Regions from separate parts of the Homo sapiens genome. Here region 1 is linked to region 2. A link means that fine-mapping ties the variant in region 2 to the expression of a gene that starts in the linked region. Tissue or cell type: unexposed skin. Region 2 holds a variant in brackets; the other region holds the start of a gene. All regions are shown on one strand. Distances are between the middles of the regions.

The links. PIP is the estimated chance that this variant, and not a neighbour inherited with it, causes the effect. A credible set is the group of variants that fine-mapping cannot tell apart.
Region 1: PDCL3 starts here. The variant in region 2 is the best candidate, but not a certain one, in a credible set for the expression of PDCL3 in unexposed skin (GTEx, PIP 0.60).

The regions. Positions count from the first base shown.
Region 1 is chr2:100,560,900-100,565,899 of GRCh38, reverse strand. It overlaps PDCL3 (phosducin like 3), which reads right to left and starts at 2,907. Exons shown (of 6, transcript NM_024065.5): 1 at 2,827-2,907. The coding sequence starts at 2,832. RefSeq lists a silencer at 2,581-2,920 and an enhancer at 3,366-4,162.
Region 2 is chr2:100,582,664-100,590,561 of GRCh38, reverse strand. No RefSeq gene overlaps it. Among named protein-coding and RNA genes, the nearest start is that of LINC01849, 17 kb to the left of the region's middle. The variant T/A (reference allele first, on the strand shown) is at 4,981.

The DNA.
Region 1 (5,000 bases), 23 kb after region 2:
CTGAGTGATTCATTCAACAGATAAAACTGAAGTATCTACCACATGTAAATTATTGTAGGCAATGGGGAAGAGTGGTGAATGCGAGAGTCACCTGTGTTACAGACAAGAGGAAGAGACAGGCAACAAACAAGTATATATACAAACTATACATAGAGAGATAAAATTGTGGCAAGTGCAATGACAAACAGGCTGCCATTTTAGAGAATTACCCAGGACCCACATTCCACAGAGTAGATAGGGATGTTCCCTACAGAGGAGGTGACATTCCGTCTGAGGGTGGAAAGCAATCTGTGATAGGAGTCTGGGGGCTTACAAATAATCTTCCAGGCTGGGCACGGTGGCTCACGCCTGTAATCCCAGCACTTTGGGAGGCAGAGGTGGGTGGATCACAAGGTCAGGAGATCGAGAGCATCCTGGCTAACATGATGAAACCCCGTCTTTACTAAAAACACAAAAAATTAGCCGGGCGTGGTGGCGGGCGCCTGTAGTCCCAGCTACTCGGGAGGCTGAGGCAGGAGAGTGGCAGGAACCCGGGAGGTGGAGCTTGCAGTGAGCCGAGATCGAGCCGCTGCACTCCAGCCTGGGCGACAGAGCTAGACTCTGTCTCAAAAAAAAAAAAAAAAATCTTCCAGGCTGGGTGGAGTGGCTCACGCCTGTAATTCCAGCTCTTTGGGAGGCCAAGGCAGGTGGAGCATCTGAGGTCAGGAGTTAAAAGACCAGACTGGCCAGTATAGTGAAACCCCATCTCCACTAAAAACACAAAAATTAGCCAGGTGCACGCCCGTAATCAAGAAAATAATCTTCCAGGCAGAGCGGCCTGCGGCATGCATACTGCCCAAGAGCAAAGAGACTGTGACATTTTGAGGATCTCAGGCTGCAGATGAGGCTTGGCTGACAGAATTCTCTAATGGCCAAACCTGAGAGGAAAAGCTGAGACGTCTCAGAGTAGCTCATAAAATACAGGGCACTCTAAGCCCTTTTTCTTGTACCTTGTCCCTGAATCCTCACAAGCCTAGGAGAGGCACGGCATTTAGAGGCACTGCCATGCTAGAACGGCTGGCCAAATCAGCCAGCATCAAAATCACAAAGGATCATTGTCACAAAGACTGATGTAAAAGTGGCTCTTAGATCTAGAACCCAGCTGCCCAAGCACCGGTTTGCATGGTGTGGCAAGAACACTGCTAATGGAGCTCAGGCTTGCTTTGGAATATGAAATCAGGAGCACTGTGAAAAGGGCACCGGGATAATCGGTCTCCAACCCCAACCCTGTGTAACAGTTCTGAGATACATCAAAAGAAAAATGAGGCCGGGCGCGGTGGCTCATGCCGATAATCCCAGCACTTTGGAAGGCCTAGGCGGGCAGATCACCAGGTCAGGAGATCGAGACAATTCTGGCTAACATGGTGAAACCTTGTCTCTACTAAAAATACAAAAAATTACCCGGGAGTGGTGACGGGCGCCTGTAGTCCCAGCTACTCAGGAGGCTGAGGCAGGAGAATGGCGTGAACTGGAGAGGCGGAGCTTGCAGTGAGCCGAGGTCGCGCCACTGCACTCCAGCCTGGGCGACAGAGCAAGACTCTGTCTCAAAAAGAAACAAACAAACAAACAAACAAAAAGAGCAGAATCCTTTCTACAGGGTGGTCAGGGAAGGCCTCAAGGGACCTGAAGGACAGGGAATGCAAAGGAGGCCAGGGCAGCCCTCAAGCTACCACTTCACCATTTAAGAGTGTCTAGGCCAGGTGCGGTGGCTCATCCTGTAATCCCAACACTTTGGGAGGCTGAGGCTGGGCAACATAGGGAGACCCCATCTGCACAAAAAATTAGCCCAGAGTGGTGGGTGCACGCCTGTGGTCCCAGCTACTCCGGAGGCTGACAAGGGAGGATGGCTTAGCCCCGGGAGGTCGAGGTTGCAGTGAGCTGTGACAGAGCCACTGCACTCCAGCCTGGGCAACAGAGCAAGACCCGGTCTCAAAAAAAAAAAAAACAGTGTCTGGCTCCTGGCAGACACGCCCTCCCCTCCAGCCCCTAATGCCTCCCTCCCCAGCAAAACCCGCACCCTCTCCTCTCCATCTGCCACTAAGCAGAGATTAGAATTTCTGACCACTGCGGGATCTTTGGACAGTGACAAAATTTAGTTGGCATAGGTTTTCACCCACAATAGTGCCCATTTCCATGGTGTTTTCATTCATTCTCCTTAGGCTTTAACCAAATTCCGCTAGTAAATTGCAGCTACAGAAAAATAATTTATTTTACCTATTTTAATAAAAAAAAAAAAAAGGACGAAACAGAGGGACCCTCGCGGGGAGCTCTGGAACCCGAGCGGTCAGATAGGGAACACGCCCCAAGCGGATCCCAGGGCTCGGGGGAAGAGGGTGTAACTAAGCCCTCACCTGGCTCTCAGTGGAGCCAGGAACACCGGCTGTGGCGCTGCTTTACGTGCGGAAGACCCCAGGCCGGACCCTCCGCTTCCTAACACCTCTGCCCAGGTGTGCCTTAGGGGAGTTCAGGAGAGGAGGTAACTTTTGTTAGGCGGGATCCGGCAAGACCTTCACAGGCCCGGGTGGGTAGAGACCGCGAGAAGACATAGTCCCGGAGGACGAGGTTTGGGGGACCCGGCACACCGAGGCGGGGACGCCCAGGCCGTGGGTCCTGGTGGGACCACGCCCGCCTCCCGCACTGCGCCTGCGCAGGGCCTGGACGCGCCGGGCCTCCCTCGTGCCTGCGGCGCCGGAGCTTCCCCCAGGGCGGGCGTCCACTGCCCGCCCGGGCCTAACGAGACAAAGGAACGGGCCGCAGCCCCCAGACCCGAGACCCGTCCTAGCTCACCTGCATCTTGTTTCCAGTTCAGTTGCTCAAACCAGCTGTGCCGCAGCGCCCCCGCCCCTCAGCTCTCTTTTGTGCACGCGCACAGCGCCGCCACGCCTCTTCCCCCAGCCCAGCCTTCGCCCCGCCCAGGGACGAGCGGCGGGGAGTAAGGGCGGAAGCAACAGCCTTGAGTCTGCGCCTGCTCTTCAAGGAACTGGCACAGAAGCGTTCGCATGCGCCAGATAGGATCTGCCTACTGTCCTGCTCGGAGTGCACTTGACCTGGTTCTAATTCTGGTGGCTGCCTTATTAGGGCTGGTCTTCAGCGGAGGAGGGGTGGGGCTGGGTGGAGGAGGAGCCCGGGGCCGTGTGCCTTTTCCAGCTGCCGGCCCAAACCTGTAAAGACGTCTCGCTCTGACTAGCCTAACAAGTCAGAAATAGAAAATTGCCTCTAGGCCGGGCGCGGTGGCACACGCCTGTGATCCCAGGCCGAGGCGGGCGGATCACTTGAGGTCAGGAGTTCGAGATCAGCCTGGCCAACATGGTGAAACCCCGTCTCTACTAAAAATACAAAAAAATTAGCCGGGCGTAGTGGTGGTTGCCTGTAATCCCAGCTACTCTGGAGGCTGAGGCAGAAGAATTGCTTGAACGGGGGAGGCGGAGCTTGCAGTGAGCTGAGATCTCTCCACTGCACTCCAGCCTGGGTTACAGAGCGAGACTCCGTCTTAAATAAATAAATAAATAAAAATGATGCAGGGTCTTCTGGAATTCACCCACGATCACTTCAGCCTTGGAAAAGGCAACTCATTAATAAGACATTGAGAGCCTGCTGTGTACCAGGCACCATTCTAGGCTCTGCAGATGCAGCAGTGAGCAAAACACTAAAACAAAGGTGAAAGTCATCTGCCGTGCCTGAGTATCAGGAGACCCATGTATGCAGGCACACAGGCACTGAGCAAAAAGCAGCAATCTGACTTGTAAAATGCAGGTATTGGGCTCCAGAGCTTCTGCCCAGGCACACTCCAAGTTTAAGAGAGCAATATTCCTACCTGGTATGGAAGGAAGCATCTTGCACACGTGGGCTAACTTGCTGCCTCCTGGCAACTAAGCGGACACAGAGAGTAGAGACCCACACACCTGTGAGATAGGCGCAGGGCTTCCAACCGTGGCTATGCATTAGAATCACCTGGAAGCCCTCAAAAACTAGGAATGTCCTGGGGCTCCATCCCCAGACAAATTAAATCCTTGGAAATGAGGCCTAGCACAGATACTTTCTTAAAGATCCTCAGGTGATGCTAAAGTGCACAGTCGTTGATATAGAGTGAATCAAATGATTGCTTGAGAGCAAGGAGTTTTTATTTAATTTATAAGGATCCTTAAGATTTTTCTCACTCATTTCAACTGAATTACAGGCCCTTTTAGGGATTTATTAATGTATCTGGCAGCACAATGTTTGTTAATGAATTTTCCTTGGGTCTTACCACCAAAATCAGGACTGGAACTAACTTTGAGTTTGATCCTGTGCTTCTTGCTCAGTCCTGCACAGCAACAGAGCAGGTGGTGTTTTGTCCTTTCCTCATCCCCAGCCTTTGCTGTTCCCTGAGGCCTGTTTTCCAGGACTCAGCTATTCTACAGTTGCTCTTCCCCACATGATCCGGTCAGAGGCATTCTAACCAAAGCCAATCCATCCTGAATAGGGGATGGGGAAAAGGAGGCTGAGACCTACTGGGTTGTATTCCCAGAAGGTTACGCATGCTTAGTCACAGAATATTTACCAAACAGACCTAAGACAACAGACCCAGGAAATGGCCTGGTGTCCTGAAAGCTTTCTTTTTTCTTTCTTTTTTTTGAGATGGAGTTTCACTCTTGTTGCCCAAGCTGGAGTGCAATGGCGTGATCTCGGCTCACTGCAATTTCCACCTCCTGGGTTCAAGCGATTCTCCTGCCTCAGCTTCCGAATAGCTGGGATTACAGGTGCGCGCCACCACGCCTGGCTAATTTTTTTTTTTTGTATTTGTAGTAGAGACGGGGTTTCACTGTGTTAGCCAGGCTGGTCTCGAACTCCTGACCTCAGGTGATCCACCTGCCTTGGCCTCCCAAAGTGCTGGGATTAAAGGTGTGAGCCACCGCACCTGGCCTTGTTTTGTTTTTTTGAGAGTCTCTCTTTGTTCCCCACCCTGGAGTGCAATGGCAAGA
Region 2 (7,898 bases):
AAGTCTCCGAAGCTGGATCGATGTGGGGAAAACACCTTTCCCTTCCAGTTTTGAGAGACTTCCTCTTGGCTCCCAGGAGGAGGGATTCCCTGACTTTGACACACATGACCACCTTGGCACAAAAGCCTTGTGGTATGGAAAACAAATTCGTTTTTATGTCCTCTTCTCCCTTTCCATCTTTCAGCAGAAAATTAACTCCCTTAAACCCAGACATCTGCTGGGACCTGACCCTCAATCATTGGTTACCAGTGTGTCAGGCAATCTGGACTTTCCAGTGATGCCACTGAGATGGCACCTGTCAAAAGAGCAGTGGTTCCATTTCTAGATTGTGGATCTTCAGATAAATTCTACCATTTTCATTTCACTTTCTGAAAGTCAGGGTCGGCTTGTGAAAAGTTGTTAAACAACATGCTAAATGTGAAATGTCAACCCTCACTCCAAACTTTCCCTATTCAGAGCATGAGATGAAGACTTCATTGGGTTTTATAGTGGCTTTCTGATTTCTGGTAGTCCATTGAAGAAGAGAGTTTGAAAGTTGTTGTATACTGTTAACGATTGTCTGCCCATGTCCTGCCTGAAATACCATGATTGTTTATGGAAAGTATCTTTAATAAAGCTGCATACAGTTTGGCTTGGGAAAAAAAAAAAATAGAACCAAACTCTGTGCAAGTTCAGACTCATGCTGCACCACCAGCATCCACACTGGGTCATCTGTGAAGTCCTTCTCCAAGGCACACAGACAGTTGCTCAGCCTTTGCGTAAGGACAGCCCGGAAGTGGAGGGCAGTTCACTCCCCTGGGGCACCCTCAAGTGGTGGAGGCCAGGGTTGGGTGATAAAGCAAGATCCTCTCTGTGGGTGGACAACTCTGGGAGGTCATCTACATGCTTCTTAGAGGTTTCAAAGGGATTGAGTTTCCGCTGCCACCAGCCCTGACCTCACATTCCCACCCTTCTGTCAGCTTTTCCCTTTCCCTGCCTCTGTCTCTCAAAGCTCTCATGCCTTCATCTTTGTTTTTTCTGTTTTGTTTTGTTTTGAGAGACGGAGTCTTGCTCTGTTACTCAGGCTGGAGTGCAGTGGCACAAACTTGGCTCACTGCAACCTGCACCTTCCGGGTTCAAGGGATTCTCCTGCCTCAGCTTCCCAAGTAGCTGAAACTACGGATGTGCACCACCACACCCAGATAATTTTTGTACTTTTTAGTAGAGACGGAATTTCACTCTATGTTGGCCAGGCTCGTCTAGAATTTCTGACCTCAGGTCATCCGCCTGCCTTAGCCTCTCAAAATGCTGGGGTTACAGGCGTGAGCCACCACACCCAACCACATGCCTGCATCTTTGGATCTCCTCTCGAACAAACTGTACCCAAGTCCCCGCTCAGGCTCTGCATCTGGGCAGACCCAAACTAACACCTATGTGTCCCTTTAGTTCTGGCACTTTACTATAGACACATGACAATCAAGAACTGAGTACCACCTTTCTTACAGGATTACAATTTCCTTTTTTTTTTTTTTTTTTTGAGACAGAGTCTCTCTTTGTCAGCCAGGCTGGAGTGCAGAGGTGTGATCTCACTTCATTGCAACCTCCGCCGCCTGGATTCAAGCAATTATCCTAACTCAATCTCCCAAGTAGCTGGGATTACAGGTGTATTCCGCCGTACCTGGCTATTTTTTGTATTTTTAGTAGAGACAGGGTTTCACCATGTTGGCCAGGCTGGTCTTGAACTCCTGACCTCAAGTGATCCGCCTACCTCAGCCTCCCAAAGTGCTGGGATTACAGGGGTGAGCCACCGTGCCTGGCACAATTTCCATTTTGATGTGATTCATGAACTGCCATATTTTAAAATAAATTTAATTTTTTTAGTATAGTTTTAGATTTGCAGAAAAATTCAGAAGCTAGTACAGTGAGTGCTCATATATCCTGCACCAGTTTTCTCTCCTCTTAACATCTTACATGAGCATCGTACACCTGTTACAATTAATGAATCAGTATTGATACATAATTAGTAACTAAAGTCTATCTGCTTTCAGAGTTCTGTTGTTTCTGACTGATGCACTTTTTCTGTTCTAGGACCTTATCCAGGACACCATATTCCATTTACTAGTCAGGTCTTCTTAGGCACCTCTTGGCTATAAAAGTTTCTCAGATTTTCCTTGTTTTTGATGACGTTGATAGTTTTTCTAGTCAGCTATTCTGTAGAATGTTCTTCAATTTGGACTTGTCAGATGTTTTTGTCTTAATTGTGGTTTGGTTTTTTGGAGGAAGACCAAAGAAGTAAAGCGTCATTTTCATTACATCATACCCAGGGTCTGTACTACCAGTATGACTCATCACTGTTGATTTTGACCTTGATCACCCAGCTGAGATAGTGTTAGGTTTCTACACTATAAAGATACTCTTCCCAGCCAGGCGCGGTGGCTCACGCCTGTAATCCCAGAAATTTGGGAGGCTGAGATGGGTGGATCATTTGAGGTAAGGAGTTCCAGACCAGCCTGGCCAACATGGCAAAACCCCATCTCTACTAAAAATAAAAAAATAAAAAAATTATTGTTGGGTACCTGTAATCCCAGCTACTGGGGAGGCTGAAGCAGAAGAATCACTTGAACCCAGGAGGCAGAGGTTGCAGTGAGCCGAGATCGAGCCACTGCACTCCAGCCTGAGCAACACAGCAAGACTCCAACTCAAAAAAAAGAAAAAAAAAAGGTACTCTTCCCACCTCCCTTTTCATATTGTACACTTTGGAAGGAAGTTGCTATGGACAACCCACCCTTAAAGAGTGGAATATCTTAAGTAGAGTATCTCTACGTTATTTGGAATGCTGCCTGGGCGATGGTCTCTTCTCCTCCACTTATTTATTTATTTATTTATTTCCATTCATATATATATATATGTGTGTGTGTGTGTGTGTGTGTGTATACATATATATGGGTTTCTTTGTGTTTTTTGTTTGTTTGTTTGTTTGTTTAGCTGAAGTTTCGCTCTTGTCACCCAGGCTGGAGTGCAAAGGCGTGATCCCGGCTCACTGCAACCTCCACCTCCGGGGCTCAAGCAATTCTCCTGCCTCAGTCTCCTGAGTAGCTGGGATTACAGGTGCTTGCCACCATGCCTGGCTAATTTTTGTATTTTTAGTAGAGATGGGGTTTCACCATATTGGCCAGGCTTGTCTTGAAATCCTGACCTCAGGTGATCCTCCCGCCTTAGCCTCCCAAAGTGTTGGGATTACAGGTGTGAGCCACGCGCCTGGCAACTTATTTATTCAATCATTTTTTTATCAGTATGAACTCATAGATATGTACTTTATATTTTGGGTTATAATCCAATATTTATTATATTGCCCAAATTGTTCCGGCTTTAGCTATTGGGAGATCTGTCAGTTGGCTCCTGGACCTCTGACGTACTCTCATCATTGTGGTTTTGTGTTTGTTTGTTCAGCAGTTTTTTGTGTTCTGGAATTACAAGATGCTCCAGGCTTATCCTGTATATTTCCTGCTTCAGTTTTAGAATCAGCCATTTCTTCAAAGAGCATTGGTTCCTTTTTTGGAGAAAAATCAAGATCTAAGTGGCAGGTATGTTCTTTGCTACTGGGGTGTCATTCCTCTTTCAGCCTCCCTCAACTGACAGAGCAAGGAAATGTGCGTGTGTATACTACCCAATGCATATACATTACCTAAATATTTCTGTTCATAAGCATCTGTATCTATATTAAACTAAACAGGAGTGGCCAGGCACGGTGGCTCATGCCCATAATCCCAGCACTTTGAGAGGCAGAGGCAGGTGGATCACTTGAAATCAGGGGTTCGAGACCAGCCTGGCCAACACGGTGAAACCCTGTCTCTACTAAAAATACAAAAATTAGCTGGGCGTGGTGGTGGGCACCTGTAATCCCAGCTACTCGGGAGGCTGGGGCAGGAGAATCGCTTGAACCAGGAGGTGGAGGTTGCAGTGAGTTGAGATCACTCCGCTGCACTCCAGCCTAGGCGACAGAGCGAGACTCTGTCTCAAAAAAAAGACAAAACCTAAACAGGAGTTCATAGTGATGACTCCAACTCTAATCTATTACCACATGGATTATTCTCACTTACACTCACCTTTGCCCCCCACTTATCTGTAACCTCTCATGATAACAGTGAGAAACCTGGCTCCCACCATCTGCCATCTATGTATTTAACTGTTCGATTCTCTTTATATGTATAGCAGTGTTACAACTGTTAATTCACACCCATGTGATAAATGACTTTATCAACTAGAGACAGGGCTTGTGTACAGCTTCTTTTGCCCTTCCCCTCATGGACTCATTTCCAGTGCTGCTTAGGTTAGCACATTTCCCCCAGCCCCCTTCTGTGAGGCTGTTTCATACATTTGTAATGCAGTTAGATTGTCTTGCCCCATTCTGCATTTCATCCAGGCATTCCCCAAACCCTCTAAAGATTTTTTGAAATTTGCATATATTAAGATTCACTCTTTGTGCCATGAAGTTCTATGAGTTTTGACGAACCCCTATTACCATCTCTCCACCATTATTGTATCATTCAGAATAGTTTGACTCCCTAAAAGTGCCATGTGCTTTACTTATTCAACCCTTCCACTCTCCCCTGAACCCCTGGTGATCACTGATCTTTTTACTGTATCTACAGTTTTGCCTTTTCCAGAATGTTATGTCTTAGTCCATTTAGTGTTGCTAGAAAGAAATACCAGAGGCTGGGTAATTTATGAAGAGGTTTATTTGGCCCACAGTTCTACAGGCTATACAAGAAGCATGGCACCAGCATCTGCTTCTGGTGAGGGCTTCGGCCTGCTTCCACTCATGGTGAAAGGTGAAAGGAACCAATGTACAAAGATCGCATGGCGAGAGAGAGGGGAGGGAGGTGCCAGGCTCTTTTTAACAACCAGCTGTCACGGAAATTAACAGAGTGAGTACTCATTCCATTGTGCATACCCCCTTCCCTTCCAGGGAGGGTGTGTTAGTCTGTTCTCATGTTGCTA[T/A]AAAGAAATACCTGAGACTGGGTAATTTATAAAGAAAAGAGATTTAATTGGCTCATAGTTCAGTTCTGCAGGCTGTACAGGAAGCATGATGCTGGCATCTGCTTCTGGGGAGGCCTTAGGAAGCTTCCAGTCATGGCAGAAGGCAAAGGGGGAGTGAGGTGCCTCACGTGGTGGGAGCAGAAGCAAGAGAGAGAGTGAAGAGAGAGGTGCTATGCACTTTTAAACAATCAGATCTTACAAGAACTCCCTCACTATCAATTGTGAGGACAGTACCAAGGGGGATAGTGCTAAACCATTCATGAGAAATCCACCCTCATGATACAACCACCTCCTACCAGTCCCCAACTCCAACACTGAAGATTACAATTGAACATCATGGGATCTGGGCAGGACACAGATCCAGACCATATCAGAGGGTATTAATCTATCCATGAGGGATCCACCCCCATGACTTAAATTCCTCCTATTAGACCCCACTTCCAACACTGGGGTCAAGTTTCATCATGAGGATCAGGAGATAAATATCCACATCCCCTTTCAGACTGGCTCATTTCACTTAGCATCCGTTTTGTGTGTGTGTGTGTGGTTTGATAGCGCATTTCCTTTTGAAGCAGATACCATTGTCCTGATATACCACAGTGTGTTTATACATTCATCTATTGATGAATGTTTTGATTGTTTCCAGTTTTGAGCGATAATGAATAAAGATGCTATAAACATTTGTGTGCAGGTTTTGTGTGAACTTAAGTTTTCAAGTAGTTGGGTAAATACCTAGGAGCATGATTGCTGGATCGTATGGTAAGACTATTAAGAGTGTTATCTATTTATGTTTACTGTGATTACTGTTTTAGATTTCCTTCTAAAATCTTATTTTGGACTTTCTAAGACCTGCTTTTCTGTTTCTTTTTATTCTTCCATCTGGTCTTCTTTTGAATTAACTGAGATTTTTTCCCCCATTACTTTCAAAGTTATACACTCAATTTTTTTTCTTTTACTGTTACCTTGAAAAAAATATTTTTAACATGCATAAGTTTGCCAAACTCTTGAATACTTTGTAAAGGTCTAAGAATGCTTGAACTCCAGTTTATCCTCCTTCAGCTTGTGTACTCTTTTGTCCTGTTTTTTAGTTGTATTTTGTTCTTTATGTCCCAAAGAAGACAGACTTTGCATTACTATGTGAAGTCAATGTTCATTAAGATTTCCATTCCCCTTTTTTGGCCAACATGCTTTCTTGAACCTTAGACCTTACATCAGCTCATCATCTTTCTGCACAAAGCAAATTCCCTTTTTTTTTTTGGACGGAACTTCATTCTTGTCTCCCAGGCTGGAGTGCAGTGGCACGATCTCAGCTCACTGCAACCTCCGCCTCCCGGGTTCAAGCGATTCTCCTGCCTCAGCCTTGCAAGTAGCTGGGATTACAGGTGCCCACCACCACATCCGGCTAATTTTTGTACTTTTAGTGGAGATGAGGTTTCACCAGGTTGGCCAGGCTGCTCTTGGGAACTCCTGACCTCAGGTGATCTGCCCACCTCGGCCTCCCAAAGTGCTGAGATTACAGGTGTGAGCCACCACTCTTGGCAGCAAATTCCTTAACTTTCCTTTAGTGAGTGTCCATTGGTGACAAACACATCTATTCTATGTCTGAAATGTCTATTTCACCTAGTTCATTCTAGTTCATCCCTACAATACAGCTTCACTGGCTATAAACAACTTTGGGTTAAGAGCTGCTTTTTCCCTTAAGCCATTGATGACACTATTCCACTGTCTTCTGGCTTTCCTTCCTGCTGTTGGGAAGTCAGTAAGCCTCATCGTTACTATCTCATAGGTGGTCTGACTTTTGTCACTGCCTGATATCCTGCAGCTTCAATATATATGGAGGTATGGATTTATTTTATTTAACTCACTTGGGATGTGTGTAAGTTTCCAAATCTGTGAATTGGTGGCTTGCATCAATTCTGGAAAATGTCTTTATCTTTTCAAATACTTTCTACTTCCAGTTCTCTCCTAAAGTTTATCTGAGACATGCAAGAAAACCTCAGTCTTCCACATCTTTTTTCTTAGCAAATTAACACAAGACCACATTTTTTTTTTTTTTTGAGATGGAATCTCGTTCCGTGCCCAGGCTGGAGTGCAGTGGCGTGACTATCTCAGCTCACTGCAACCTCCACCTTCCAGGTTCAAGTGATTCTCCTGCCTCAGCCTCCAGAGTAGCTGGGACTACAGGTGTGCACCACACCTGGCTAATTTTTGTATTTTTAGTAGAGACAGGCTTTCACCATGTTGGCCAGGCTGGTCTCAAACTCCTGACTTCAAGTGATCTGCCTGCCTCAGCCTCTCAAAGTGCTGGGATTACAGGCGTGAGCCACCACACCCAGCCAGGATCACAGATTTTAAATGTAACATTTAAAATTTGTCCCACCCATTTGACCCTGTGCTTCGGGGGAATTGGCTCTGCTTTCTAGTTCATTAATTCGCTGTTCTGTTAGTTATTTTTTTAAGGAATTCATTTTTATCTAAGGTACTCTTTTTTTTTACACTTTTATATAACATAAAAAACTTTTTTATACGTTTTTACACTTTTATATAACATATAAAAAACATTCATCGTATATTTTATGTCTGAAAATTCCTCTCTCCTGTCTTTGCAGGTCTGGCTGTGCTGTCTGTTTTCTGCTGGCTTTCATTCAGGATGCCTTATCTGTGGCATCCTGTGATTTTGTGGGTTTGTGATATTTTTACTAGAAGCTCATGTTCTTGGAGCTTCTAGGAGAGAGTTTGAGGCTAAATCAAAGGTGTGTTCTAGCATAGATACGCAGTTGCTTTGGCTATGAGCTCAGAGGTACTACCAGCTTAGGGCATCTTTTTCTTTTTTTTTTTTTTTTGAGACGGAGTCTCGGCTCACTGCAAGCTCCGCCTCC